Linked DNA regions of Homo sapiens: region 2 is linked to region 1. Evidence: fine-mapped expression QTL. A gene starts in region 1. The other region holds a variant in brackets. All regions are shown on one strand. Distances are from middle to middle. Region 1 holds the start of PLEKHM1 (pleckstrin homology and RUN domain containing M1). Region 2 overlaps ARHGAP27 (Rho GTPase activating protein 27).

What was found. PIP is the estimated chance that this variant, and not a neighbour inherited with it, causes the effect.
Region 2: its variant is fine-mapped to the expression of PLEKHM1 in whole blood (INTERVAL, PIP 0.99).

What each region holds. Positions count from the first base shown.
Region 1 is chr17:45,484,048-45,499,160 of GRCh38, forward strand. It overlaps PLEKHM1 (pleckstrin homology and RUN domain containing M1), which reads right to left and starts at 6,674. Exons shown (of 12, transcript NM_014798.3): 1 at 6,605-6,674. LOC105369225 (a long non-coding RNA gene) reads left to right here and starts at 6,825. Exons shown (of 5, transcript XR_002958152.2): 1 at 6,825-15,113.
Region 2 is chr17:45,394,311-45,409,423 of GRCh38, forward strand. ARHGAP27 (Rho GTPase activating protein 27) reads right to left here. Exons shown (of 20, transcript NM_001282290.2): 5 at 11,366-11,773; 6 at 10,614-10,796; 7 at 10,291-10,371; 8 at 10,135-10,218; 9 at 9,959-10,024; 10 at 9,719-9,786; 11 at 9,309-9,399; 12 at 8,404-8,508; 13 at 3,639-3,737; 14 at 2,606-2,714; 15 at 2,358-2,480; 16 at 2,177-2,275; 17 at 1,897-1,974; 18 at 1,673-1,807; 2 more. The coding sequence ends at 1,146. Among named protein-coding and RNA genes, the nearest start is that of ARHGAP27, 31 kb to the right of the region's middle. RefSeq lists an enhancer at 151-810 and a silencer at 1,442-1,599. The variant G/A (reference allele first, on the strand shown) is at 8,057.

The DNA.
Region 1 (15,113 bases):
TGACCAGCATTAACATTAAAACAGACTCCTAAGACTGACAGAACAGACTCTCAGCAATTAAGATACCAACTCCAACCTGACTGGTCTAACATCACATGGGAGATAACAGGCCCTAAGGAAATCAAAGTATCTTACCCCCAAGTATATTTTTGACATAGTTTGGAATGGCCCTGCAAAGCCATCTCTTGTTGGGAAAATTTATGTCCTGCAGAGATTCCCTTCCCTTTCTAGGCCTTTTCCTGATTTAGAGGAGATTTAACTAAGAGTCTGACACCTTAGAGACATTTACCATCTATTCTCTTGAAGGCTTCATCTACGTTACATGAACCTTGGCTTTCACAACCCACCTTATCTTAACCCCAAGCTTTTCTTCTGCTGACTTTTAACTCTTTAGGCAAAGTTTAACTTTTTCAGCCAATTGCCAATCAGGAAAATCTTTTAATCCACCTTACCCTGTCCCCACCAATGTATACCTTACATATATCAATTTATGTCTTTGCCTGTAACTTCTGCCTGTAACTTGGATAAAAATCAAGCTGTACCCCAATCACCTTGGGCACATGTTCTCAGGACCTCCCAGGACTATGTCACAGGTCATGGCCCTCACATTTGGCTCAGAATAAACCTCTTCGAATATTTAACAGAGTTTGGCTTTTTCATCAACAGTGCCATCACCTCAGAGCTAGGATTCCAGGGGTGGTCTGGGAAGACCCTTTCGCTGGGGGCCGGGAACAGGGGGTGCAGGGGAACATTAAGGCCAGTGTGGCAGGAAAGGTTTCCTGGACAGCCCTGGAGCAGCATGAGGTTTGGAAAGCAGACAGGCAGGCTGGCCCTAAATGGTGGAAGGTGCTCTGATTGGATCTCTGGCTTCTGGGGATAGCAGAGGGCAAACAGGACACAGGGAGTCAGGACCCAGAGCCAACCTCCCTAAGTCAGGTCCCTCAGGAGGAAGCAGGCATGTATGGAGGATGGTTCCTGCAGACCCAGTAACAGGCCGGGTGCTGCAGATGGCCAGAAGAGCCCTCAGTCCTGACTACAGCCCCATCTGACTGCCTCACCCTTCACCATAGTCTGCTCCCAGCTACCCAGGGATTCTCAGAGCCCTCCTCTGGAGACCAGTTCCACATTCTGGCCACGGGGTGACAGGAAAAGGGGGTTGTATGCTGCAGTGACTCTGCATCTAGGGTCACTTCCAGAAACAGGCCTGGTCTTGAGGTCAGGCTCCATCAAGGCTACCCTTTTGCAGCTCAGCAGGCCACGTCCAGCTTCTCTGGCTCCGAAACCCTGGGCTCCAATCCCAGTCCACAATTTCCAGTGGCCTGAGGCCCTCAGGCCCACCCTTCTAGAGAGAGCCCGAAGCCCCAAAGTTGCCCTTCCCTTAACCAGCTACAGGGCCGGGACCCTAAGGACTTAGACCCAATAATTTGAATTATAGCCCAGGCCCATTAAGACCTCATTAACTAATTAGCTGAGAGTGATAGAGTATTCACAGAGTATTCACTGGGAGGAGCAGGCCATTGGTAAGTGAGTGCTCTGGCCAAGTAACAGTATGCTAAGAAGACAAAATAGGCCAGGTGCCGTGGCCCACACCTGTAATCCCAGCACTTTGGGAGGCCGAGGCAGGAGGATCACTTGAGGTCAGGAGTTTGAGACCAGCCTGGCCAACATGGTGAAACCCTATCTCTAATTAAAAAAAAAAACAAAAATTAGCCAGGCATGGTGGCCCATGCCTGTAATACCAGCTACTGGTATTACCAGCTACCATACCGGCTGAGGCAGGAGAACCACTTGAACCCAGGAGGCGGAGGTTGCAGTGAGTCGAGATCATGCCACTGCACTCCAGCCGGGGCAGCAAAGCAAGAATAAATAAATAAATAAATAATTTATGGCATGGCGCCGTGGCTCACGCCTGTAATCCCAGCACTTTGGGAGGCCGAGGCCGGCGGATCACGAGGTCAGGAGATCGAGACCATCCTGGCTAACACGGTGAAACCCCGTCTCTACTAAAAATACAAAAAAATTAGCCGGGTGCAGTGGTGAGCGCCTGTAGTCCCAGCTACTCGGGAGGCTGAGGCAGGAGAATGGCGTGAACCTGGGAGGCGGAGCTTGCAGTGAGCCGAGATCCCGCCACTGCACTCCAGCCTAGGCGACAGAGAGAGACTCCGTCTCAAAAAAAAAAAGATAAAATAAAAAAATAATAATAATAATAATAATTTATGTCTCAAATAAATAAATAAATAATAAACTGAAGCTGGCTGGGCGCGGTGGCTCACGCCTGTAATCCCAGCACTTTGGGAGGCCGAGGCGGGTGGATCACGAGGTCAGGAGATCGAGACCATCCTGGCTAACACGGTGAAACCCCATCTCTACTAAAAATACAAAAAATTAGCCGGGCGGGCACCTGTAGTCCCAGCTACTTGGGAGGCTGAGGCAGGAGAATGGCGTGGACCCAGGAGGTGGAGCTTGCAGTGAGCCAAGATTGTGCCACTGCACCCCAGCTTGGGCAACAGAGCGAGACTCCATCTCAAAAAAAAAAATTAATAATAATAAACTGAAGCTAAGAGAGACAGGGCCAGACAAGAGAAGGGTCACTTGGCCTAAAACAGAGTCAGAAATGCCACAAAATGACTGACAAGAGCTCAGAGAAATCCAGCAGAAGAGCCACTTGAAAATTCACAAGACAGGACTGAGCCTCTGGGGTTCCAGCCACAATGCAGGACACCTCTGTTTGTAGGCAGCCATAGCACCCCACCTATCTGTATCTGTTCCATCATGCTCAGGGAGGCAGGGCTCAGATGGTCAGTGACATAAGAACTCACGGCGGGAATCAGAAGGAGGCTTTGTGTCTCTTGACTGTGGGGACAGTACTGCGTCACCCACCCTGGTGGCCCAGATTCTGAATCTACCATCCTATGGAACTGGTTCCACTTTCTGTCCTCAAAACGCTCTTCATTGACACAAAGAACCAAAGTGAAGAGAGGTGTGGCTTCAAGGAGACCTACCTGAAGGGAGTGAGGCAAAGCTGGGCAACAGTACCAAAGGGCTCTTGAACATGACGGGTGAAATCTTAGCAGGGGAAAGGTGACTGGTGCCATTTAGGAAGCCCCAAACCACACCAAGTCTACTGCCACCCTGTGTATTCATTCGCCTTCACATAGCTCTCCAGAGTGCAGAAAGCAAGCTTCTCTGATGTCCCTCTCTAACCTCATTTAATTCTCACAGCAATCCCGTGAGAGAGTGATTATCCCTGTTTTACAGAGGACAAAACTGAGGCTCAGTAGCAATGGGTCTCGGGTAAGGGACAGAACTCTCTGGTTTCTTCATCCCAACTCCTGCATCTTTCCCTGGACCAAAAGGCCTCAGGTCTTTGGCTCAAATTCAGACAAACTATTACTTCTTCTTTAGAGGTACTCGGAAGCTCCATTTCATCACAGAAGGTCTGAAACCAACAAGAAACAGTTCTGCCAATCAGGTTTATAGCCCCAACCAGCTGAGACCAGGTCCTACCAATGCTCCTAAAGTCTCAGAGCTATACTTTCTTAAATGTTCCAACATAGTTAGGAAGGAACAGTTCCGGTTGGTTTCCTGCATTATACTGCCTGGCCTTCTCTATATGTCCAATTTCACTTCCTCCAGAGATCAAGGAAGCAAAAAAAGAGAATGACTTGGATGAGACTTACGTTAAAAGAAGAAAGGGATAACCTGGTTCCACCACTCTCAAAACACTCCACCATCAGTGAACAGCAACCTCTTCTCTTGAGGGACTCCTCAGCCACTCCCCACGGCCTTCTCTCCACTGCCTGAATTGTGTAACTGGCTGTTCAGAGCCACAGCCTGGCTTTAAGCCATCCAACTGCTGTACCAATTGATGAGTCATGTTTTTTCAATTGGAAAAGAATGACAAAGTTATCCTCTGATTCAGAAAGGCAGCTGATCTTTCAGGCATGTGAGTGCTGACTGAGGAAACTGCACCTCTGTCCACCTGAGGAAAGCTGGATTTCTGTGATGGGTGGAGTGGTGGGGGTTGGAGCTTTGAAGCAATTAAATACCAGATGAAGGGTGAGAAACTTTTAGCTTGTGATTCCCAGACTCAGGGCTAGTGGATGAGGGCAGAATTGTGGAGTCAGTGAACACTAGCTATCTTTCTTTCCTCCCTCCTTCCTTCCATCCAGTATCACCCAGCTTTCCTGTATTCTTGTCCCATATCCCAGAGGATTCTAACAAGGACCAAACTCTGAATGAATGAAAACAGGACCGTTGCCTGACCCATTCACCATTGTATTTCTAGTACCTGGAACAGTGTTTGTCACACACTGGTGCTCAAAAAATAAGCTGTTGAATGAATTGATTAATAAAATAAAAACAAGGCACGGGGTAAGTACCTCCACTTCACACACTGTGGGAAGTTGGGGTATACAACTCTTAAGTGCTGGGGCAACTGTGGAGCTCCTGTCATTAAGCCAAGCTGCCAATAAGGCTGAAAACAACTTAAATATACTGCATATTAATGGGAGGACATTGAAGGTAAACAGCATTCACTTTTCAAAGGAATACGACTATAAGTGGCAAGCAGAGACAGTGTTCTTTGGGGCTCTTTAAAACTGCAATCAGCCAGGTGCGGCGGCTCACGCCCGTAATCCCAGCACTTTGGGAGGCCGAGGTGGGTGGATCACCTGAGGTCGGGAGTTGGAGACCAGCCTGATCAACACAGAGAAACCCCCATCTCTACTAAAAATACAAAACTAGCCGGGCATGGTGGTGTATGCCTGTAATCCCAGCTACTCGGGAGGCTGAGGCAGGAGAATCGCTTGAACCTGGGAGGCAGAGGTTGCGGTGAGCCGAGATCATGCCACTGCACTCCAGGCTGGGGAACAAGAGTAAACTCCGTCGAAAAAAAGAAAGAAAGAAAGAAAAAAGCTGCAATCAAATGGCCCACCCATCTGATGCCGGGTCCTCAGGATTCAGAGAAAATGTGTACCAAAAAGCCCCCAGGAAACTATAAATGCTGAGCATGGGACTTGGGTGCCTCTGGAATGTCCTTCTGCCTCAGCTACTCTGAGATAACATGGTTCCCTGTGTTCATGGAACCCAGATGGCCAAAAGTCAATGATCCAGCACTTAAAAGAAAAGAAAGCGATTCAAGAGCCTCTGTACCCACCTAGGCCTCAGCCTCCCCAGGACCTACTCACCTATACTCTTCACAACAGGTAACGTTGCCTCTGGCACCCATCATATCCCCTGAATTCAGCATCAGGACTGATCTGCCATCAGCTCTGGCAGGGAGAGGCCCTTACAAGTGCCAAGAAAAGGAACACGAACAATATTCTGTGACCACAGCCAACACCACACAGAACTTCCCAGAAGCTCTCCAGGGCGAGAACACCAACCAGAAGGAAGTGACAGCTTCCATCATTCTGTGCTAAGTGAGCTGAGTGAGTGGCCGTCTCTCACCTTCCAGATATTTGAATGATACCTACCATTCCAGCAGCCAGCACAAGTCATTTAATATGAATGCCAAAAACACAATCCCTGAGGACAGGTGCAGGAGACCAGATGCCAGGAAAAACCCCGGCCCCACCCAAGAGTTGGGGAGAGCCCACTGCTCCTCCACCCTTATTTACCACCTGAGCCCCTGCACCCGCCAATCATGCTGCTCAGTCTGTAACTGCGGGTCTGAGTGAGCACCTACATTTGGCTGTTGAGGGGCAGCTGGTGGAGTTGGCAGGCGACTCTGCACTAAGTTCTCAGGTTGAATGGGAGTTGGGTCGAGGGAAGCAATGGACGCAGAGTTGGGGTGAAGAGTTGCGGTGGGTCAGCGGGGGTGAAAGGACATGGAGATGTCATTTTTAACAAGATTGGGTGAGGGTGGTAGGAAAGGAGGCAGCAAGAGTTCGGGACAGTTTGGCAAAGACTTAGGGATGGGCTGTCCTCAGTACGGCAGGAGACGCAAAGGAAGGTATACAGTGGCTAGGAGACTAAGGACGAGAAGACACAGTTAAGACTTGGAATAAGGCTGAGATCGGAGTTATCCAGAAGAAAGCGGTGAGCTCAACAGGGCACCTACTTTGGGGGTGGGTCTTAGATGAGAGGGCGGAGGTAGAATGTTTGGGATGAGCAGATCTTGGGGAGCTAGACGGGGGATGGGGGTGACTGGGATAAGAAAGCTGAGCCAGAAAAGGGGAAACCTGAATGGTGGGTCTCGGGGAGGTAAGCGCGGAGCATCGGGATTACCAGAGGGGTGGGGAGAGAGGATGAGGTGTGTCAGGGCGGGGCGAAGGGACGTGGCCGAGATCGGTGTTGGAACTGGGGTAAAGTGGGGTCACGAGTGAAGCTGCATTTAAGCAAGACCGCTGGTGAGGGGATGCGGGCGCGGGCTGGGGGCTGGACAGACGGAGGGGACGGGGCCACAGCGGCGGTGCAGGGGGAAGGCTGGGTCGGAGAGGAGCGGGCGCGGGCTGGACAGGGCTGAGGGCCCTGAAGCCGGGCAGTCTCAGGGTAACCAGGGGCTGGGAATCGCGGAGGGAGCGGGAGGCCCACCGCCCGTTCGCGCCTCGGCCCTCCCACCACTCCGCCGCCCTCCTCGCATCTTGACCCCCTAACTCACCAAGCGGAGCGAGGAGCGAGGCGAGGGGCGCTCCCGGCCGCGGCAGCCCCTCAGCCTCCGAGCCGACGATGCGGTCTCTCGGCCACTGACAACAGGAAGCGGCGCCCCGGCCCCTGACGCCATCACGTTGGCTCGGCGCTCCGGCCCTGCCCCGGCCCGCGGTGCCAATCGCGCAGCCCGAAGGAGCCTTGGGGCGGGGCCAGCTGCTCCCGGAAGTCCCTGGGAGCTGAGCCCCGGGGCAGATGCGAGGTCTGGGAGGCTGGGGAACTGGGGGCGCCTGCAGGGCGCAGAGAGGCGAAGGCACCGGTGTCAGGGAGAACGCATCCGTTACCGCCCGCCTCCCGCAGGTCTGCGTCAAACTAGATCCTGGCTTCTGGGTTCCTGACCTCGTTTGGCCTCAGAACCATCTGTGCAACATTGGGGCTGTCACTTCGCCTCCCTCAGCTGAAGAGTTCCCACTTGTGAGTGGGACTAATAACGCCTGCCCTATCTTTGCCTCTCCGAGGGCAGCAGTGCAGCCCGTGGGGCGGAGCCCGGGCCCAAATTGGAGCCTCCGCCTTGCGCTTTCAGGATAAACATAGCTGTTTTGACCACACTTTATCCCAAGGGAACGCCTTGAGGTCCCCTTGGGCACTCTCCCGTGTGTAACTCGCCCATTAGCACCGCCTGGCTTGAAGCTTAGGGGTCTGGTTATTCTCTTCTAGCCCGTGTAGAGGATTTCTTTCTTCCTTTCTGCTTTTTTTTTGAGACAGGGTCTCACTCTGTCGCCCAGACTGGAGTGCTGTGGCACGATCACGGCTCACCACAGCTTTGACCTCACGGACTAAGTGGTTCTCCCACCTCAGCCTCCAAGCAGCTGGGACTACAGGCGTGCACCACCACGCCCAGCTAATTTTTTCTTTTTTCTTTTTTTTTTTTTTTTTGCGACGGAGTCTGGCTCTGTCGCCCAGGCTGGAGTGCAATGGCGCGATCTCGGCTCACTGCAAGCTCCGCCTCCTGGATTGACGCCATTCTCCTGCCTCAGCCTCCCGAGTAGCTGGGACTACAGGAGCCCGCCACCACGCCCGGCTAATTTTTTTATGTTTTTAGTAGAGATGGGGTTTCACCGTGTTAGCCAGGATGGTCTCGATCTCCTGACCTGGTGATCCACCCGCCTCGGCCTCCCAAAGTGCTGGGATCACAGGCGTGAGCCACCGCGCCCGGCCAATCTTTTCATTTTTAAAAAAATTTGTTTATTTTGTAGAGACAGGGGTCTCACTGTGTTACCTAACCTGGTCTCCAACTCCTGGCCTCAGGCGATCCTCCTGACTCGGCCTCCCAAAGTGCTGGGATTACAGGCATGAACCACCACACCTGGCCTGTATATCTTCTTTCTAACGCAAAAGTGACATTTCTCTTTCAGATGAACTCGGAACAAAATGTCATAAGTGGTGGCCACAGGTAGTGAAGAGCAGGGCAGGGAGTGTTGGCAGGGACCCATGCTCTGGACACTTTATACTTGCAGGCTTTGGTCAATTGGGAGCCTAGGGCCTGAGTGTGGATGAGGAGAGGTACTGCTACATGCCAGTCCTAAGTGGGCACAGGGGTTGGCTGGGGAACGGGCCAGTTCTTGGAAGCAAGCTTCACTGCCCTCGGCCTGGGCGTCCTGTGCTCTTTTGGCTTCTCTGGGTAGGAAGGTGTCCCTCTTATCTCTGCAAAGTTCAGAGTCCCACTGTCTGCTTTCAAGTATAAAACCAGCACTTGGGGGTATGACCCTGGACTGTATGAGGGCCGCCCTTTCAGTAATTCTCTCTCCAGGAGTGAGAACCTCCCCTTCTCAATTTTAGACTAGATGGGTCTGAGTGTGTTTACTGCAGTTAATGGTTGAGCAGGAAGATTAGAAATAAGGACATAGAGACAAACTATTCTCTCGGTGTTAAACTCATTTTAAACAAAGTGGAAAGTAAGGGATTTAGTAGGGAAATCCTTTCACCTTGGCAAAACGATAGTATACAACTGGCACAGCATAATCCTTGGTGGCTTGGCACAAGCATTCCCTGTCCCCCATCAAGCACATAATGTCCCTCAGTAATTCCACTGCATTTTTGTGCAGCGGCTGTGTGCTGGAGCTGTGGGGAACCCCTCGGTAATCTCTTGTCTGCTTTTTAGGAGCCCCTATCTCCTGGTCTTCTCTTACTTCCCAAGCTACCCTGCTTCTTTGAAAAGTCTTCAGGCTTGCCTACCTCTTCTCAGCTTGCTCTGCATGCCTTGGGGAAGCTGCATAAAGCATGGATCATGAAGGAGGGGGCGCAGAGGAGAGGGAAATGCATGTTTGCACAAATGGACCCTGAGCCCACCAGGCAGGCTCCAGATGGGGGGGAAAAAAAAAAAAAAAACCCTTACATTATCACGTGACTTGCGCAAGAAAAAAGGTACCTGCAAAGGGCCAAGGGACCAGAGAGGAGAACTTGAGAGGTATTCTGGAGGAGGCGACTTTTGATATGAGCTTTCTAGGTGAGTAAAGGGTATTGCAGCTGAAGGGACTGGCTGGTAAGTGGCCAGCACATAGGAATACAGGCTGAGCTCAGGGAAGGGTGCACCCAGAGGTGGGGAGGAAGGTGGGAAGTGAAAAAGGAGGCTGGGCACGGTGGGTCATGCCTGTAATCCCAGCACTTTGGGTGGCCGAAGCTGGTGGATCACTTGAGGTCAGGAGTTCGAGACCTGCCTGGCCAACATGGTGAAAGCCCATCTCTACTAAAAATACAAAAATTAGCCAGGTGTGGTGGTGTGTGTCTGTAGTCCCAGCTACTAAGGAGGCTGAGGTATGAGAATTGCTTGAACCCGGGAGGCGGAGATTGCAGTGAGCCAAGATAATGCCACTGCACTACAGCCTGGGCGACAGAGTGAGATCCTGTCTCAAAAAAAATTTTTTTTAAATAATAATAAAAATAAATAAAAATAAAAGGAAGTGAAAAAGGAAAGGGTAAGGGGAGAGGGCCAGAATGGAAGGGGAGCTGAAGACTGAGCAAGGCAAAGTTGGAGGCCAGTGCAGAAAGGGCTCAAACCATTTGCAAGGATGGTTCACATCCCACTGGTCTGTCAGCTTGGATTTAAAGCACTACCCAGCGTTATTCAAAGCCACACAGGAGAACTGTAGGCATCAGAATGCCCTGGGGACAGGTCCAAAATGCAGATTCCTAAGCCCCACACTAACCCTAAAGAGTCACTCTAGGATGAGGTCCAAGAATTTGGGCTTCACCCCACCTCTCCTGTCCCCTGCCCTCACCACTGAGGACCTAAAGGATAATGAAAGGGGGAAATCTGTGCCCTAAATAATCCCTTTTGGCAGTTACTTTCTGTTTTCAAAGTTCAAGTCTGTCCTCCGGGACTAACCTAGGAGATGAGGGATAAGGGAATTAACATTTATGGAAAATGGAAGAACATACATAGGCACCTGTGTTCACCTAATATTCCTTACCAGCCACCTGAAAGGTGGGTGCTGCCATTATCTCTATTGTATGGATGAGAAAATAGGCTTAAAAGAGGTTAAGTGGCCAGGTGCGGTGGCTCATGCCTGTAATCCCAGCACTTTGGGAGGCCGAGGTGGGTGGATCATGAGATCAAGAGATCCAGACCATCCTGGCCAACATGGTGAAACCCTGTCTCTACTAAAATACAAAGAATTAGCTGGGCGTGGTAGCACGCATCTGTAGTCCCAGCTACTTGGGAGGCTGAAGCAGGAGAATCGCTTGAACCCAGGAGGCAGAGGTTGCAGTGAACCGAGATCACGCCACTGCACTCCAGCCTGGTGACAGAGCGAGACTTCATCTCTTAAAAAAAAAAAAAAAAGAGGTTAAGTAACTTGCGGGGGGGCCACAGCCACAGAAGTAGTAAGTGCTAGAAGTAGGATTCTTACCTAGTTCTTTCTGATTCTAGTTTCAGCTTTGTTCAGTGGATTTTAGAGCCAGGGCTGTTTAGGTTTGAATCTCATCTCTATCCCATATTGTTTGCTGGGACTTCCTTAAAACAGTGTGGGGCCCAGGGCAACCCAATGAGTATGGGGCTAAGATAGCTGACAGCTGCCACCGAGTCAGCATTTTTCACAGGCCCGTTGAGATCGCACTGAAGACAGAAATTTCTAAATTGAATTTTATTGATGTTCAGGAAAGAGAAGTAAGTCACAACGCCCCTTCGCCCTCAGCCCCAAGCAGAGAGCCCAGAGTGTGTGACCTCAGGCAAGTGCCAAAACCTCTCTGAGCCTCAGTTCCTCATTGTAAATAGGGGCTAATGTCAGTTGATGTGAGGAGTAAATATCATGATATCCTGGCTGGGCACAGTGGCTCACGCCTGTAATCCCATAACTTTGGGAGGCTGAGGTGGGTGGATTACTTGAGGCCAGGAGTTCGAAACCAGCCTGGCCAACATGGTGAAACCCCATCTCTACCAAAGATACAAAAATTAGCCAGGCATGGTGGTTCATGCCTGTAGTCCCAGGTACTTGTGAGGCTGAGGCACAAGAATCGCTTGAACCTGGGAGGCTGAGGTTGCAGTGAGCTGAGATTGCGCCACTGCACTGCAGCCTACATGACAGAGTGAGACTCTGTTCCAAAACAACAACAACAAAAAAAAAAAAAAAAAAAGGAAAAGAAAAAAAGAAAAGAAAAAGATGATATCCTTAATGCAAGTTCTGGCCTGTAGTAAGTGCTCAAAGATGAACAGTTGTTACTATTCTAGTTGTGGCTAATTTTCACCCTGCCAATTGGGCAGGTCCTTGCCTTCCATTGCTCTTGTAAGCACTTGAATGAGAGCCTTTCTTGTCTGAACCCCAGATATATTCTTGCTTGGCATCTGATTGAAATAATAAAACTAGTGTTAATGCACCCTCCTCTCTGGACACTGTAATCACTGGTGTGCTCTTCAGTTCTGTTGTAGGAAGCGGTTTCTTTCCACTCTCTCTTTTTTAAAAAATTGATTAAAAAGTGTTGTTATACACACGGTTTACAATTCAATAAAATGAAACGGAATGGGGATGAAACATAACGAACAACAGCAGTTCATTGTCCCTATTGTTCCCACCCTTCTGGGGAGCAGGCTTTCAGCAGAATCTTCTGGTGCTTCTCCCCACATCTCCTGCACGTCTCATTGTTTGTATTTTATTATTTTTTTGAGACACAGTCTCACTCTGTCACCCAGGCTGGAGTGCAGTGGTGCCATCTTGGCTCACTGCAACCTCCCCCTCCTGGGTTCAAGCAATGCTCCTGCCTCAGCCTCCCTACTAGCTGGGATTACAGGCACCTGCCACCATGCCCAGCTAATTTGATATTTTTAGTAGACGCGGGGTTTCACCATGTTGTCAAGGCTGATCTCAAACTCCTGACCTCACGTGATCCACCTGCCTTGGCCTCCCAAAGTGCTGGGATTACAGGCGTGAGCCACCGCGCCCAGCTGTCTCATAGTTTTAGACACTGTCTGTTGCCTTCCTGGTAAACCTGGCAAGGACTTAGCTCTTTTACACCCCAGCCCTGTCCATTCTTGAGGTTTGGGTTTGCCACAATTTGTAGAAAATGAACAGTGTTTACAGAATTGTGACTATATAAATATTATTCACCACAGAGCTTAATAATGTGCTGTGAGGTCAGGCATGGTGGCTCACGCCTGTAATCCCAGCACTTCGGGAGGCCAAGGTGGGCGGATCACCTGAGGTCGGGAGTTCAAGACCAACCTGGCCAACATGGAGAAACCCCATCTCTACTAAAAATACAAAAATTAGCCGGTGTGGTGGTGCCCCCTGTAGTCTCAGCTACTTGGGAGGCTGAGGCAGAGAATCACTGGAACCTGGGAGGTGGAGGTTGCAGTGAGCCGAGATCATGCCACTGCACTCCAGCCTGGGCAACAGAGTGAGACTCTATCTCAAAATATAATAAAATAAAAATAAAATACACTCTGATGATGGCTGCTTCCCCCAAGGGTGCCTCAAGCTCTCTCCTTTTCTTTCAGTGCCATCTGCCATTATCGTGCCATCGTTCTCTTCCAGTGCTCTGGTGGAGCAGGTGGCGCCCAGGCCCACAGTGCCCTCTCCAAGTTCTGTCCTCCATGTGCTCAAGTTATCCCCTAAACTTGTCACATGTGGTCATCCTGGAACTTTGCTTAACTGCTTCCTGGGTTGGGGCCTTTATTTCCTGGCTCCCTTCTCTTCTTGCTTAATTTCCCCTCCCTTTGCTGCAGCACATACTCAGTTAAGAATCCCTTTCTAACATTAAAAAAAGAAAAAGAGAATAGTTCTTGGATCTCCTCATGATAGAAATTATATCTTTAGGCCGGGTGTGGTGGCTCACGTGTGTAATCCCAGCAGTTTGGGAGGCCGAGGCAGGTGGATCACTTGAGCTCAGGAGTTCAAAACCAGCGTGAGCAACATGGTAAAACCCTATCTCTACAAAAAGTACAAAAATTAGCCAGGTGTGGTTGCATGTACCTGCAATCCCAGCTACTCAGGAAGCTGAGGGAGGAGAATCTCTTGAACCCAGGAGGTGGAGGTTGCAATGAGCTCTGATCATGCCACTGCACTCCAGCCTGGGCGACAGAGTGAGACCCTGTCTCAAAAAAAACAAAATAAAGTTGTATCTTTAATATCCATTAACTGAAAAATAAAAATAAAAATAAGGACCAAAAATTACTATGAGGACACACATGCTTTTAAATGAATTTGTGTGTTATTAACCACAGTAACATCTATGAACTTGTGAAAAACTGTTACTGGTTTAGGCTTAAGGGTTTGCCCAGTCTAGCTTCAATGTTCAATGGGTGGGCACGGTGGCTCACACTTTGGGAGGTGGCCAAGGCAGGCAGATCGCTTAGTCCAGGAGTTGGAGACCAGCCTGAGCCACATAGTGAAACCCTATCTCTACAAAAAATTTAAAAATTAGCTGTGCGCGGTCACGCGCACCTGTAGTCCCAGATATTGGAGGGCAGTGGGGGTTGGCGCTGAGGTGGGAGGATCACTTGAGGCCAGAAGGTCAAGGCTGCAGTGAGCCGAGGCTGAGTCACTGCACTCCAGCCTGGGTGGCACAGCAAAACTCTGTCAAAAAAACAAAACAAAACAAAACAGACAAACAAGAACCAAAGTTGGATGCAGTGGCTCATATCTGTAATCCCAACAACTCGGAAGGCTCAGGCAGGAGGATTGCTTGAGGCCAGGAGTTCAAGGCCAGCCTGGGCAACATGCTGAGACCCTTGCCTCTGAAAAAATTAAATATTAATAAAAACAAACCCTAGTAGCTTCAGTCTTTGATTCTCCATCCCTCATTTCATCCCTTTGTCTTCTGGTAATAGAATTTCCTTCTTGTTTTTCTTTTGGGATGAGCCACCTTCGCTCCCTGGGATTCTGCTGGGATTGAGTTACCGCCTTCCGGGCTCAAGCGATCCTCCCACCTCAGCCTCCCAAGTCGCTAAGACCATAGGTGCATGCCACCATGCCTGGCTAATGTTTTGTATTTTCTGTAGAGCCGGCGTTTTGCCCTGTTGCCCAGGAGTTTTTCCTTTAATGTTCTCCTGCTACTTACTAATTCACTTTGTCACCCTGTGAGCTCATAAGAGCAGAGAGATAGCAACAGGAGCTAAAAAAACTCTAAGCTGTGAAAAAATATTAAATATGAAATCATGATAGCTATTAGCTTAATTTGTTTTAGGCAAATTGCAAAGTAATTTTTTGGGAATCAGTGTCCCACTGCAGTGATTCCATATGGGGATTCCTAATTCCCAGTATGTTTTTAAAATAATTTGTAAACACCTAGTACAAACGCATGATATGAAATTCAAGAGGTACAAAAGGGCATACAGCCCTGCACTCTCCCAGTTTCCCTCCCCGAAGGCAACCGCCATTACCAGTTTCTCGTGTGTGCTTCCAGAGGTATTCTTGTCCAACAGAACTTCAGTGATGAAAACAGTTGCCTGTGCTGCCAGTTTGGAAGCCATTAGCCACACGGGGCAGTTGAGCACTTGATATGTGGCTAGTGTGTCTTAGCAGCTGACTTTAAAAAAAATTTTTTTTTTTTTAAAGACTCAGCGTCTTGCTCTGTTTACCAGACTGGACTGCAGTGAGTGTGAACATGGCCTCAAACTCCTATTTATTTATTTTTTGAGACAGGGCCTCACTCTGTTGTCCAGGCTGGAGTGCAGTGGTGCAGTCATAGGTCACTGCAACCTTGACCTCCTGGGCTCAAGAAATCCTCCCACCTCAGCCTCCTAAGTTGCTGGGACTACAGATGAATGCCACCATGTTTGGCTGATTTTTACTATTTTAAATTTTTTGCCTGGGCGCAGTGGCTCATGCCTGTAATCTCAGCACTTTGGGAGGCTGAGGCGGGCAGATCACCTGAGGTCAGGAGTTCGAGACCAGCCTGGCCAACATGGCGAAACCTTGTCTCTACCAAAAATACAAAAATTTGCTGGGTATGGTGGTGCGTGCCTGTAGTCCCAGCTACTTGGAGGCTGAGGCACGATAATCGCTTGAACCCAGGAGACAGATGTTGTA
Region 2 (15,113 bases), 90 kb before region 1:
GCTGTTCCCTGGGGTTCACGCTTCCTTTCTTGAGGTTGTGTCCTCCTTCCCCACACCCTGCAGGCCTGCCCAGCTCTTCGTGGCAAAGCGGGCCCCAGATGGGTGTACTTGTGTGTCAGAGTGCCAAGAGGGGCTGGGAGCTCCTGCTAGGGCTATGTCCCCCTCCCCTAGGACAGAACAGCTGGGACAGTTTCCCTCTTTGCCTTCAGGGGCCTCCCCAGGTCCAGACAGAACACACCCAGCTTAGTTCCTTTCTTTTCACATAGGCCCAAAGGTTGGATGGGTGGTAGCTGAAAGAACTGATTTTCCCCCTACCCAGGCTGTACTCTGGTGTGGGAGGAGCCTTTTCTGGGGAATGAGGTCACTCACTGGACCTTGAGCAAGTCACACTGCTGCTGCAGGCCTCAGCGTCCTTGTCTGTAAAATGGGATGGTGTGTGGAACTGGTGCATGCCGAGCGGCAGATGCAAGGTGTGCACTTGGTGAATGGGAAGAAGCCTTGCACAGAACACCAGTGGGTCAAGGACAGCAGAGGCCCGGGACCCCCAACAGGAAAGCAGATGAAACTGGCCCACAGCCAGCCTGTGAGAGGCTCAGGCAGGAGGTCATCCCTGAGGCCTGAGGAGGATAGCTTCAGCAGCCCACACTGAAGGCTGGGTCAGTCCTGTTTCCACAGTGGGGAAGTGATCAGAGCTGCCTCATGACTGGCACAGTGCCAGCACAGGGCCAGGGCCCACAGGGTCTCTGTGAAGGCCTCCACGAGGTGAGGGCCAGAAGCAGCCAGGAAGCCCTCCATCAAACTCCTCCTCCCAGCACCTACCATTCCAGAAAACAAACTCTCACCCCCACACACGCTATCGCACACGCACAGTAGGCGCGATGCAACAGAGAAAAAACCGAATTAACCCCCAAACAGGACGTGACGGGAAGGGAAGGGGGGATGGGGAGTTGGGAAGAAGGAATCACATTTTGCAAACTGCCCACTAGGGGTCACCGTACCCTCAGAACCGAGGGTGCAGAAGTCACACCGGCCTGCGGCTATGCGCTGGCGGAGGGTCCCAGAGAGAAGAAGGCCCGGCTGCGTGGCCTCCGCCGCCCAGCTTGTGTGGCAGGACCGCGGCCGCCGCCCCAGTCACAGGCCAGCAGTCAGTGCGGCGGGAAGATGTCCGCGCACTGCTGCAGGATGAGCTCCACCACCTGGTTCTGGAACACCATGGTCATGGGCATGCTGGTCTCTTCCACCTCGGGCCGCAGCAGCGTGGGCCCGAACACAATGGCCACGCTCTGCACCGACATGCGGTTCTGCTCGCCGTGCTCGATCACCCTGTGGCAGGGGTGGGTGGGTTCAGGGCTCCGAACTGCGAACTGCGGGGAGGCGCTGGGGGCTTCAGCCGGGACCTGCCTCCCCCTTCCCGCGCGGGCCGCCCGGCTCACCGGCAGAGGTGCTGGAAGAGCATCCGCAGAGTGTCGTGGTTGGGAGCGGGCAGCGAGCGCACCAAGTCACGCACACAGCGGCTGCGCCGGGCCTGGTCCTGCAACTCTGGGTGAGGGAAGGTTTAGAGGGAGGGAGTCGGAACGGGAGGTAGGGGGTATCGGCTGGGCGAGGGGAGCCTGCTAAAGGGGTGCCCCGCCACGCCCCTACCCCATCCGCCCCACCTGCCCCAGGTGCTCACTGATGGCCGCAATGAACTGGCGGAAGTGCGAGAAGGGGAAGAGGGGCTCGGGCAGCTCCCGAAAGAAGAGCTTCAGGGCTCCGGTGATAACGTGGACGTCCTCCCAGCGCCCGTCATCCAGGTCAAGGCGCTCATCTGTGGCGGAGGAAGGGAGGAGGACGGAAGGGAAATCAGTACCCCTTGCGCCTTCAGGCCCTGGGGCAGGGGTTGGGGACGGGCCTCACCGTGGTCCACCTTATAGCGTAGCTTCTGGATGGTGGCCAGGTTTCCACTGATGCGGTACAGCCCGTCGATGTCCAGCCCTGGGCCAGAGGGAGGCGCTGATCCCGGGTTCAGGGATGGGGATAGGGTGGGGCTACGGGTCCCTGCTATGACTCCCACTCGGGGCCTCCCGTACTTTCCCCCTGGACCCTGCGTCCATCCAGGGGTCTCCAGCCTGCGGTCCTGGCAGGAGGCCTGCGGGCACCCCAATGCCTGCCGCCCTCACCCCCGCAGCGCACGTACCGCGGGCCTCGACGGCGCGGATGCACTGCTGCACGAAGCGTGGCACCCGGCTCCTCTCGCGCTCACACAGCGCGGCCAGCGCGCAGCCGAACACCTGGTCTAGGGCAGAGGCTCATCAGCTCCTGCCCAGCCTGCGCCCCGTCCCGGTCCCGGGTCCCCGCCCCCCGCAGGCCTCGGGTACCTTTGATGTAGCCCTTCTCCCGCAGCGACTGCAGTGTGGGCCGCCTCTGGAGGAACTTGCGGAGCTTGTGCCGGACCTTGCTCAAGTCGCTCTCCAGGCCCACGGGGCCCAGGGCGGGCGCGGCTGCCGCGGGGAAAGGCAGGACTGAGTCAGGAGGCAGCGCCAGGGCAGGCCAGGCAGGCCCCAGCAACCGTCACTCCCCAGGAGAGGCCTCCTGGAGCCCCCACCCCATCCTGCCTTGCGCACACCTGCATTCGGTCGCGCGTCCTCCTCTTTCTCCTGCCAGCTTCCCAAGCGCTCGCTCGACCCGAAGTCCACTCTGCTGCTCTCGCTCTCCTCTGGGGGCAGCTCTGCGGACTGGATTCCCATAGCCTCAGAGAGGCGGGGCCTTGAGCCAGCTGCGGGTCCTTCCAGGATGGGGCAAGGGACCCGAAATGCACTCCCAACAGGCATGGCCTGGAGACCCTCAGCGAAGAGTCCTCTCTTCCCTTAACCAGGTTAACTCTCCTTACCTCCACCAGTGAGCCTGAGAACATTCACCTCCCTTAGCTGCATGGAGCCCTTAAGGTGCAGAGACAGTCATCCTGTTCTCCCACACCCCTTCCTATCCTGGGGACTCCTACCCACCTGGTGCCTTCTTTCTCTATTTTCCTCAGCTCCTCTAACTGGGTCAGCATTCCTCAATACGTGGCTCCCAGTTCTGAGCCTGCACCTCCAGCTGTGGCCGGAGCACTGCCAACAACTGCACCAATATCACCTCTCTGGCTCTGGATTCCTACCTCTATTAATACAGCCAAAAGCTTCACTCAATGTTGGCTCATAGGGAATTAAGGGTCAAAAAGCCCCAGGTCATTTCCAGGTCAGTAGTTGTCAGAGGGCCCCTGTCCTAGCTCTACTTATGCAATTGGTGTTTTCAGCCTTAAAAAAATGGTCGACTATTGAAATCAATCCTTTAAAATTTTATCTGCTAGTTTCAGCCTGCCATTGGTTGGCTTGCAGAGTATTTATTTGGCCTTCTGCCTCCCGTGAAATGGGAACTTCCTTTAGAATGTGCCCTACCCTCACCTGGAGAGTCTTCCTGCAGGGCCAACCCCAGGGCTGGATTCACAGACTTACAGAAGGCAGTTTCTTCAGCCGCCTACCCTGCCATCCTAGCCATTAGTGGGGACTGCATTTGCATTACCCACTGGTACCTTAGAGCTCCCTGAGCCTGAGCAGAGGGCCCCACTCATAATGGCCACCCCCTCCCCACTGCCCCTAGAGGCCCTGGGCTCTGCTTACCAGCTCCTGGATGCCCTGAGCAATGGCCTTATGCCAGGTGCTGATGATGGCCTCCGAGTCGTGCTGGATCAGGTACTCAGAGCCATCTCGGCTCCGTAGCTGGAGGGACACAAGTCAGTGGGTCATCTCTGGTACCCTGGGTCTGCCCTGGGGGTTGGCCCTAGTTGGGGGTAGGTACAGAGATAGAGGTGACCTGTCCCTGCCCCCAGGCACTCAGAGCTTAATGGAGCAAGGGCCTCACCCCAGGCTAAGTCTTGGATCTCTGCCTCACGTAAAGCAGTGGCTGACAGCATCTCTGTGTTACAGATGAGCAAACTGAGGCTCAGCAAGTTTTAGCTGCTTCCTCATGGGCACACAGCTAGTGAGTGATGAGCACAGAGCTGCATGGCTCAATTGTCTGGTACACTTTCCCTCCCCCATCCTGCCTCCCTGCAAGCCACAGAACATGGCAGGCCTCATGCAGAGCACTGGCCTGCAAACTAAGTGAAAGAAACTTCCTATGTGAGGCCAGGCACGATGGCTCATACCTGTAATCCCAGCACTTTGGGAGGCCGAGGCGGGCAGATCATGAGGTCAGGAGTTTGAGACCAGCCTGGCCAACATGGTGAAACCCCGTCTCTACTAAAAATACAAAAATTAGCCAGGCATGGTGGCGGGCTCCTGTAATCCCAGCTACTTGGGAAGCTGAGGCAGAAGAACTGCTTGAACCCGGGAAGCGGAGGTTACCGTGAGCCGAGATCATGCCACTGCACTTCACCCTGGGCGACAGAGCAAGACTCCGTCTCAAAAAAAAAAAAACAAAACAAAACCCAGAAACTTCCTATGTTGAGACCCCTGTCTACTAGAAGCAACAGTGAATATAGGGAGAGAGGATTTGAAAGCTGATCATGGCTGATCCCAGGGAAAGAAAGGTCTCCCCTTGCCCCTCCCCATACACACACTGAGGACTCAGAAACGTTGTCCCACCTTCTGCAGCCAGGAGTCCCCACCACCTCCCACACTCCAGCCTGGGCAACACATCTTCTGTTAGCCCGCTTCATCATGAAGCATAAATTAAACAGAACACCAGAGGGAAACTTGCCACCATAGGACTGACGCTCAAAGCCCTTTCTGAGTTGGATGGCAGCTTAGTTGGATTCCTTATCAGCCTCTGGCTCTGAGGACCCAGTGTTCCAGGTTAATGTGAATGTTTGGCGGCAACAGCTCACACCAACCCTGCCCTTTTGGTTCAGCGAGAGTCAGAGACAACAGAAACTGTCTCAGACCCCAGGACACAACTTCTAGAATTGGATTGGACTATCTTTGCTGTCCTTTTAAACTTATACTTGAAGACTATTTAAACTGCTTTTTAAAATGAAATGAGGCTGGGCGCAGTGGCTCATGCCTGTAATCCCAGCACTTTGGGAGGCTGAGGCGGGTGGATCATGAGGTCAGGAGATGGAGACCATTCTGGCTAACACAGTGAAACCCTGCCACTACTAAAAATGCAAAAAATTAGCTGGGCCTGGTGGCACGCACCTGTAGTCCCAGCTACTCGGGAGGCTGAGGCAGGAGAATCGCTTGAACCCGGGAGGCAGAGATTGCAGTGAGCCGAGATCGCACCACTGCACTCCAGCCAGGGCAACAGAGCAACACTCTGTCTCAAAGAAAAGAAAAGAAAAGAAAAGAAAAGAAAATGGCATATCTCATCCCCTAGCCCTCCCCTGCAAAGGACAGAGAACCTTCAAGAGGCAGATAACACAGCCTCACTCTAATCAAAGCAGACAAGAGCCCTGCTCAAGATTATCCCAGAGAATGGCTTGACAACACTTCTAAAACAACAGCCATGATTTTTGGCAGCTCTCTCAAAACATAATCAGTTCATATTTGCAAGTTTCATATAGAGGGCAAAGCTGTATCATTACATAGCAATGTATTTCACAAAATATTCACCCCCAGCCAGGCACAACGGCTCATGCCCATAATCCTAGTGCTTTGGAAGGGCAAGGTGGGAGGAGTCCTTGAGACCAGGAGTTCAATCCTGGGCAATATAGTGAGACCCTATATCTAGAAAAATTTTTACAAATTAGCCAGACATGCTAGTGTGCACCTGTACTTCCAGCTACTGGGGAGGCTGAAGTGACAGCATCACTTCAGTCCAGGAGTTGGAAGCTGCAGTGAGCTACGATCAAGCCACTGCACTCCAGCCTGGGCAACACAGTAAGACCCTATCTCTAAGAACAAACAAATAAACAAAACATTTATCCTGCTGACCGCACAGGCAAATGCTAGCAGCTTTTGGCGGACTGTTGCTGAAGTTTTCTGTAACTCGGGGTGACTAGAAAGACCTGCTGTGAAAATTTCCTGGGCCCAACAAAGCCATCCATCCTCAATGATATAAAATTTGGGGCTGTCTCTTGAGGAAAACCCTGGAGCTGCCTACAGGCCGCCCTGCATGGAGGGAGGATGGCCAGCAGTCAACCAGGAGGCAGGGGCTTGTGATTTCCATTCAGGCCTGCCCACCTTCCCACTGGCCTGAGCAGCACCTGCCTTCCAGTCCTTGCCAGCAAAGACAACTCAAAAAGCCCTATTCTGAAACTTTCATCAAAAGTCCATCAGTGATGATCTTCATTGAGAACTGTTTGAAGGATATACCTATCCCTCAAAGTCAGGGGAGAAACATGACTAGCACAGGTGATGTCTCAGACCGGGCATGGTGGCTCACACCTGTAATCCCAGCACTTTGGGAGGCCAAGGCAGGTAAATCACCTGAGGCCAGTAGATTGAGACCATCCTGGCCAACATGGTAAAACCCTGTCTTTACTAAATACAAAAAAATTAGCCGGGTATGGTGGCAGGCGCCTGTAGTCCCAGCTACTCGGGACGCTGAGGCAGGAGACTCACTTGAATCCGAGAGGCAGAGGTTGCAGTGAGCCAAGATTGCACCACTGCACTTCAGCCTGGGCAACAGAGTGAGACTCTGGATAATAATCATAATCATAATCATAATCATAATCATAATAGTGATGTCTCTCCTCAATTTAACACCATAGCAGATATTGTTAGTTGATCACAGAACTCTATCCTGCCAAGCCCAGAGAAGCCTTCAGAATTCTTCTCAAGAAGGCTCCAGGCTAGGCACAGTGGCTCACACCTGTAATCTCAACCCTTTGGGAGGCCAAGGCTGGAGGATCACTTGAGGCCATGAGTTTGAGACCTGCCTGGGCAACATAGTGAGCCCCCATCTCTATAAAAACTAAAATTAGCCAGATGTGATGGAACGCGCCTGTAGTCCTAGCTACTCGGAAGCCTTAGGTGGGAAGATCGCTTGAGCCCAGGGGCTTGTGGTTTCAGTGAGCTCTGACCGTGCCACTGCACTTCAGCCTGGGCAACAGAGCAAGACCTTGTCTCTAAAAACAGAAACAAAAAATAAAAACAAAAACAAAACCCCACAAGACTCCAGACCTACTCATCAGAGTAGCTCATGAGATGAAACCAGTTTTCCAACTTTGCTTTATAGATATCCTGGCTCTAGAACTGAATGGAGCTTGGTGAATAATCAGGAAACTACACTCTCAGGTTCCTTGCAGAACTGTTTTTTCTGAGCTTAGACATGAGGTCATGCTCTTGGCCTTCATCATAATGATGCTACCTGAAGCAGTCCCGGATCCTGAATTAAACCTTCCTGGAGCTGTTTTGCAGGGTACCTGGCATGTGCTTCTAGATCCCATGTTCATGGAGCTACATACAAGAAATTTAAGAGTGAAGGGTTAGGAAAAAGCTTTGATTCCCTCAACATCTGGGTGGGTTTTATTATTTGTTCAACAACAAAGAGACATGCACCTGATAGCCCTTCTCTTTTCACCTCACCTAGCAGGAAAGTCGGAGCTAAATTTTCTTCAGTAACCACCACCTTAGCACCCATACATCATCTGCCCCCTAATTCCTCTCCATCTTGAGTCCCATCTCTTACTTGTTTTTCATGGTCCTGGCTTTTCAGTTAATTTGACAGTTCACCACGTGTGTTTCTGTTGTGATCTGCCTCAAACCTTCTAGGTACTGAGGTCAGGGTAAGAGTAGTTTAAAAACAAGACAACACATGGACAGTGAAGGGTGTGGCATTGGGAGTACCCTTTCTGGGTCTTCTCTCCCTTCCTGCGGGGGTAGCATGGTAGTCTTCTCCACTGCCCCAGTTTATTCACTGGGGATGCGGTCCAGTCGGAAATGGGGCTCTGGCTCAGGGGCAGGGAAAGGGACCTGGGGAGAAAGAGGTTTCCCAACCAGGCCTGTCACAGTAAGCAGCCAGGGACAGGGAGCCTCCTGTCTCTCTCAGGCTGGGACGAGGGCTGCCATTCTAGTCATGAGAATTTCCTCTCCCAGAGGCCCTACTCCTCACCACCCTCCAGGGCAAGGATTATTATTAACTCAGCTCCTGGAGA[G/A]GGAACTGCAGAATATGTGATGTTAGAAACAAAGGACAGGTCCCCTGGGGCGGGGGTGCAGCGTTGGCCTTGAGCCCTGAGAATGGTAGCCCCAATTCTTCCCAGGTCCTCCTTCTTGGGGCTTGCCTACAGTAAGGGTCCCACAGCACTGCCAACAACTGCACCAATATCACCTCTCTGGCTCTGGGTTCCTACCTCTATTAATACAGCCAAAAGCTGCACTCAGTGTTGGCTCATAGGGAATTAAGGGTCAAAAACCCCCAGGTCATTTCCAGGTCAATAGTTGTCAGAGAGCTGGCAGGCATCACTAAGCCCCTTCCCTCCTTCTCCCCAACCCCGCCACTCACCTCCAGCACATTCTTCCTACTGGATTTGTCTTTGGGGGCCCAGGAGAGAGTGGCCCCCCTCAGCTCCACTGTGTACTCAGGGGTGGAAAACTTGGAAGGCTGCCTCTGTGGGAGAGGGAGGAAGGTCACAGGGAGCCCTCAGTTCAGATGTGTCTGCTGTGGCACTCTGACCCTAGGAATAGGATGGGGTCACTGGCATGGCCAGGAAACAACTCTGGGGAAAAGTGCCCCAAGTGTTCCTGAACCCAGAGACCCTGATGCTTCTTAACCATGGAGCCTGCTGGCTGGCATGTCCACTGCTGCCCACCCACCCAGGGGAGGACAGGAAAGGAGTGCAGTCTGCATCCCTGCAAGCAGGTGTGCCCACCCCCAGCCTCCCTGCCCTCCAGGCTGGAGCTGGCCACCCTCAAGACTGTTCCCCATCTCCAGTGGGCTAAAACTACTTGTCTTGGAGTGAATCTGCCAGTATCACCCCCTTCCTGCCAAGGCCCAGCTCCTCTGACACTCATGGACCACTCTCTCAGACCTGGTCATCTCCAAGCCAGATTAGATAGAGCAGATGGGGGCTGGGCACAGTGGCTCACGCCTGTAATCTCAGCACTTGAGGAGGTCGAGGTGGGCGGATCACCTGAGGTCAAGAGTCCAAGACCAGTCTGGCCAACATAGTAAAACCCTATCTCTACTAAAAACACAAAAATTAGCCGCACATGGTGGCACATGCCTGTAGTCCTAGCTACTCGAGAGGCTGAGGCAGGAGCACTCAGGAGGGAGAGGTTGCAGTGAGCCGAGATTACACCACTACACTCCAGCCTGGGTGACAGAGCGAGACTCCGTCTCAAAAAAAATAAAAATAAAAATAAAAAAAAGCAGATGGGATGGTCCCTGCCCTGAGGGCCTGGCCTTACCAGGCCGCCTGCAGCCGAGGTCTTTGAGTCCTTGAAGAATGTCAGGACGCCACCCTCCAGCACAGTCCAGGAGGCACTCCAGTGCTTCTTCCTAGGTGGGGGTGGGGAAGTGGGGGTGGCAGGACTTAGATTTGGTCCTGGGCTGAGGGCCCCTCCTACCCCAGGAACAAGTCAGAGCTTAGGAACACAGGCTAGGGCACCCCATTATGAGGGCTGGAATCCCGACTCTAACACCTAGCAGCCGAGGGACCTTGAGCAAGTCACTTTATCTCACAGTGTCTCAGGGTCCACAGAGGACCACTCACGAAGTTGTTGTGAGGATTAATAAGAGCCTGGCATACAGGAAGTGCTCAGTGAACATCGTCACCAAGGCCCACCCTGCCCCGGCCTGAGTGTAGATGGGCTCTCACCGGAGCCGCTTTCCCTTGTCTGCCGTCTTGGTGCGATGGAGCACCCCTGCCTTGTCCAAGGTCTTGGTCTAAGAGAGAGAAGAGAGAGCAGGCGCAAGAGTGTGTAGTTAAGGGGTGAGCTATGGGGAGTAGAGGCTGGTCACCTGCTCAGCTGCCACTCTCTATGGTCTGGGCCCGTGTCTCCACTGAACCCTCCTCGCCAGCACCACCACCTGGCTGGGGGTAGGGGGTGATGCCTACCCTCACAGCAGCTGTGGCAGGAGAGACTTCCTCCCAGCTCCCAACCTCATCCAGCTCTGCTGGGACCTATGGGGGAAGACAGATAGATCCCACCAAGTCCCTCCTCCCAGGAACTCCAGAAGCCCCCCACTGCTTCTGTGGTGGTCCTGCCAGGACCTCAATGGCTCCTCCCCTACCTTCTCCTCTGGAGGGCTGGCCTGGGCTGGGGTGTCACCATCCTGGCTGGATTTATGGATGCTTCGAGGGGCAGGGACAGGGACCTGGGGAGAAAGACACAGTCGTATATGATCTCTTCCTCTCTCCCCAACACCCCCCTTTCCCCAGGTTGTTACCTGGGGCAGCTCCCATCGAACAGAGGAGTCCTCTGGATTGTAGAAGTATGGCTTCCCGTGGGGGTCCTCCAGCCTCACCCACTGTGGGGAGAGGAATGGTCAGGGCCTCCAGCCCAGCTTATGAGAGGGGAGGAAAAGTTTCCCTCTAACCAGGTTCCAAGACAGCACCAGGGAGTCTGGAGGGGCAGGTGCAGGTGACTGTGTTTGGCTGGTTTAGGCTCTGTGTGGGAGCTGCGGTTTAGAGCACTGAGGCGACCTATTAGTGAGGAAGGTTGTGGGGAGGACTCTGAGGCTGTCCGGGTCCATCTGCCCCCTGCCCCTACCTGCTCCTGAGTGAAGTGGTTGGTGTAGAGCATCTGCTTGTCCTGGCTGACATGACAAGACCAGCCGGGGGGTGTGGTCAAGGGAGAGGTAGGGCCGGGCTCACCGAAAGAGCCCACGGGAGAATAGTCCTCCTCGGGGTAACTGGTCAGCGACTCGGGGTAGTCCGTCTCGGGAGTGGGGGGCTGCGGGGAACAGAAGGTGGAGTCAGAGGCTCTGAGTGCCAGTACTGCCTGCTGGCCCTGCCGTTTTGGACCAGGCCCACCCCCTTGCCTTCTGGTCCCTGAGGCTGTGGGAGCAGGAGGCGGGGTCAGAAGCGCTCAGAGGTAGCTCCGCACCTCACCCTCTGGTCCCTGGGGCTGTGGGAGCAGAAGGCGTCAGAGGTAGCCCCGCCCACTCCAGCCCTGCCCCTCACCTTCTGGTCCCTGGGTCTGCAGAAACAGGAGGCGGGGTCAGAAGCGCTTAGAGGTAGCCCCACCCATCCTGCCCCACCCCTCACCCTCTGGTCCTTAGGTCTGTGGGAGCAGGAGGTGGGGTCAAAGGCGCTCAGAGGTAGCCCCGCCCACTCCAGCCCCGCCCTTCACCCTGGGGTCCCTGGGTCTGTGGGAGCAGGAGAAGGGGTCAAAGGCTCTCAGAGGTAGCCCCGCCCACCCATCACCACCCCCTCACCCGTGTGTCCCTGGGCCTCTGGGAGCAGGAGGCGGGATCAGAGGCGCTCAGAGGTAGAACCGCCCACTCTGGCCCTGCCCCTCACCCGCGGGTCCCCTGGGCTGCCAGGGCTCAGGCCCGGCTGCATCTCCAACTCCTCCTCGGGCTCGTTCTCGGCCTCGTCCTCCCAGGCCGTCTCGCCCGTCAGCGGGTTGTAGAAGAACACCCTGCGGCTCTCCTCATCCCAGTACTGGCCCCACTCGGTCTCAAGGCTCACGTGGCTGTCCACCGAGGCAGGGGAGGTGGCTGGGCTGGCGGCACCCTCGGCAGCCTCAAAGGGCGACTCCCAGGTGGTAACTCCCGTGTCTGGGTTGTAGTAGTAGGGGCGCCCGGTGCCCGCGTCCGTGTGCGTCTCCCACACCGGGCTGGGAAGGGGGGCTGCAGCGGCGCCCGGTGAAGTGGCCCGGGGCTGCCTCTCTATGTTCGCGTACACGGGCTCCGGTGGGTCGTCCACCTGCGGGAGGAGAAAGGAGGAATTTTGTGTTTTCAGAAACCTTCCAAAATGGTAACAGAGGTCCCCTCTGGGCAGTGCGATTATAGGGGTTTATTTGTTTTCGCTTTATTTTCTTTAAACTTTTCTGCAGCCTCAAAATTTTGTACAACAAAGCATTTTAAAAATCACGTAAGTTCTTCTGCTCACTGTGACACCATCACTAAGCCGTAAACTCCTTGAAAGGGGAAGTGCCTGTTAGAAGTGGCCTCTTCTTGAGCTTTAGCCCCTTGGGCGACCTTCAGGAAGTCACACTACCTCTCTGCCTCAGTTTCCTGGGTGTAAAATGTCTGCTCTGTCCATTCCGGAAACTGTAGTGAAGAGTGAATGAGGAAATGCTCTTGAAAGTACTTTGTAAAGTATTTAGTGCCCCAGACGGGTGGGTCAATTACATTAATTATATTTATCAATAATAATAAAACATCGATAACCCAGTTCTCACAACTGTGCACTCACAGAGGCAAGTCAGAGGTTGGGCAGGAACTGAGAAGTGGTCTGGGGCGTGCCCCTGTTTATGGTGCCCATTCAGGGCCCTGCTGCATTCTTTTTTTTGAGATGGGGTCTAGCTCTGTCACCCAGGCTGGAGTGCAGTGGCGCAATCTTGGCTCACTGCAACCACCACCTCCTGGATTCAAGCTGCATTCTTACAGCTCCACTGAGAGCTCCCACCCCACCCCACTCTCAGCCCAGAAAGCTCTGGGATTGGAATCAGCACCCTGTCTGGATTTGGGGACTGAACTTTCCAAGGTGAAGTTTGCAGGTGTCAGAACCAATTCCAGACAAGAGAGGGAGACAGGACAGCCAGATGGGCTGGAGAATGGAGGGGCAAAGAGAGGTGAATTGTTTTACTCCACCCCAAAGGAGAGTGAGGGCAGCTGGGGGTTCAATCACATAGAACATAAACCTAGCCATGCGTAAGCCTCCCGGAACAGAGGCTCTCCTGATTCACACCTCAGAGCTCCCTGCTGGCTGCAGGGCAAAGTCTAAGCCCTTAACCAGGCACAAGAGACCGTCCCTCACCGGCCTGTGCTTCCACTATTATTTCCTGCCACTCCTTGCCCCTTGCCTTGAACTTTAAGCTCCAGTAGCACCAGTTGCTAGAGGTCCCCACCGTCCCTGCTGTGTTTCCTCCAGGCCTAGGCTCATCTGCAGCCTGCCCAGGCCCATCTCCACCCCTTTTTTTGCCTGGCTGACTCCAATTCCTTCTTCAGGATTCAGCTGAGGTGCCAGGTTCCAGCCTTTTCCTGAGATTCCCCCCATCCCCGTGCCCCCACATTCAGCCCAGCACCCTTGGCCCCACAGAGGGACAGATGACTACATTCTCAAACCCCAGGCAGCAGCATGGCATACGGAGATTACTACTATTTTCTTTTCTTTTCTTTTTCTTTTTCTTTTTTTTCTTTTTTTTTTTTTGAGATGGAGTCTCGCTCTGTCGTCCAGACTGGAGTGGAATGGTGTGATCTCGGCTCACTGCAACCTCCGCCTCCTGGGTTCAAGCGATTCTCATGCCTCAGCCTCCCAAGTAGCTGGCATTGCAGGCACGCACCACCACGCCTGGCTAATTTTTGTATTTTAGTAGAGATGGGGTTTTGCCCTGTTGGCCAGGCTGGTCTTGAACTCCTGACCTCAGGTGATCCGCCCACCAGGGCCTCCCAAAGTGCTGGGATTACAGGTGTGAGCCACCGCACCTGGCCAATTACTACTATTTTCTAAGCATACACAATACTTCAGGGGAAAGCAGATTTCCACATTTCAATTTTGTGTTTTCGGAAACTTTCCAAAATGCTAACAGAGGTCCCTTCTGAGCACTGTGATTATAGGGGTTTGTTTTTGTTTTGTTTTCTTTGAACTTTCCTGCAGCCTCAAAATTTTGTACTACAAAACTTTTAAAAATTCACAGAAGTTCCTCTGCTGACTGTGACACCATCACTAAGCTGTAAACTCCTCGAAAGAGGAAGCACCTGTTCAGGGTGGTCTCTCCCTGAGCCTTAGGCAGATGCCAAAAAAAAAAAAAAATTCATTTTTCACCAAACTGATGCCAAAAAAGCAAACCAAACCAAAACAATGAAAAGAAGAAGGAAAAGAAGAACATTTGTTTACCCAACAAAGATTCACCTGCTCTGTGCCAGGCACTGTTTGAGGCACGGGGAATACAGCAGGGAAGAAAGGGACACAAATCCTTCCCTGGCAGAGCTGGCACTCAAGTGCACCTGTGTGTAAATGGTGGGGGTGATGAGTAAATGGACAGCATGTCAGTGCTGATCACTGCTAAGCAAGAAATGAAAACACTGTCAATGAAGAGGATGTTACAGTTTTAGACAGGGTGCCAGTCCCCAGGCGCCTGGGGGACAGGGAGAGCTGGGGATCCCAGCCCATCAGTTCTTCTCTCCTCTCCCCTTCCTCCAGGCTGCTGTGTGGCTGAGAGGGGACCCTCCACCCCACTTGTCCTTTCTCTACCCCCACCATAGCTCTGATGTGGCATCCTGTAGTCCAACCACAACAGGCCTCTCACCGGCCCCCAACAGAAAAGGCATCCTCCCACCTCGAAGCGTTTGCTCCAGCCATTCCCTCAGCCTGGAATTCCCTTCTCTGGTTCTCTGCCTACCCAAATCCTGCTCTCTCACGGTGCTCAGCTGACAAGCCTCTCCAGGGAGAGGTCAAACCTGCTGGCACTCTGCTCACTGCTCTGTTGAGGCCCAATGGCGTTCTGCCTTGGTGGGCAGCCAGTTGTCCAACCATCTGCCCACCTCCTCTGCCCCAAAAGGCAGGATTTTCTTGAGAGCAAGACTAAGGATAATGTAGCTGATTCCATTTGCCCCCCAGCAGCTGGGCCAATGCCCTGAAGCACATAGCAGGTCTGCCACAAACTGCTTGTGTACACAAGTCTAACCCATGCCCAGTTTCAGCAACAAACATGCCTGACATGACAGAAGAGCCTGGAATGAGCTTGAGCTTTCTGAGGAGGAGGGTCGGAGCCACAGAAACCAGGAGATTCCTGGGGAGGGCAGGATGGAAGCAGCGGGGAGAGGAAGGCAGAGGAACCAGACACACCTCCCATCCTCCCAGCTGAACGCACTGGGGCAGGAGTTGAAAGGCTCCACCAGGGGTGGATGAGCTGATAAGGAACAGGCTCTTTGGAGCAGGAATTTCTACTTGGCAGGCTGTGGGCCATGGCTCTGGGTCCACGAGGAGTCCCAGGCCAGTGAGGCTGATGGGGTCCTCACACGAAGGAATGTCCCCAGCAGGTACAGAGGAGATTTCGGAGGTAGAAGTTTAGGTCCCCAGCATGACAGGGCTGTCACAA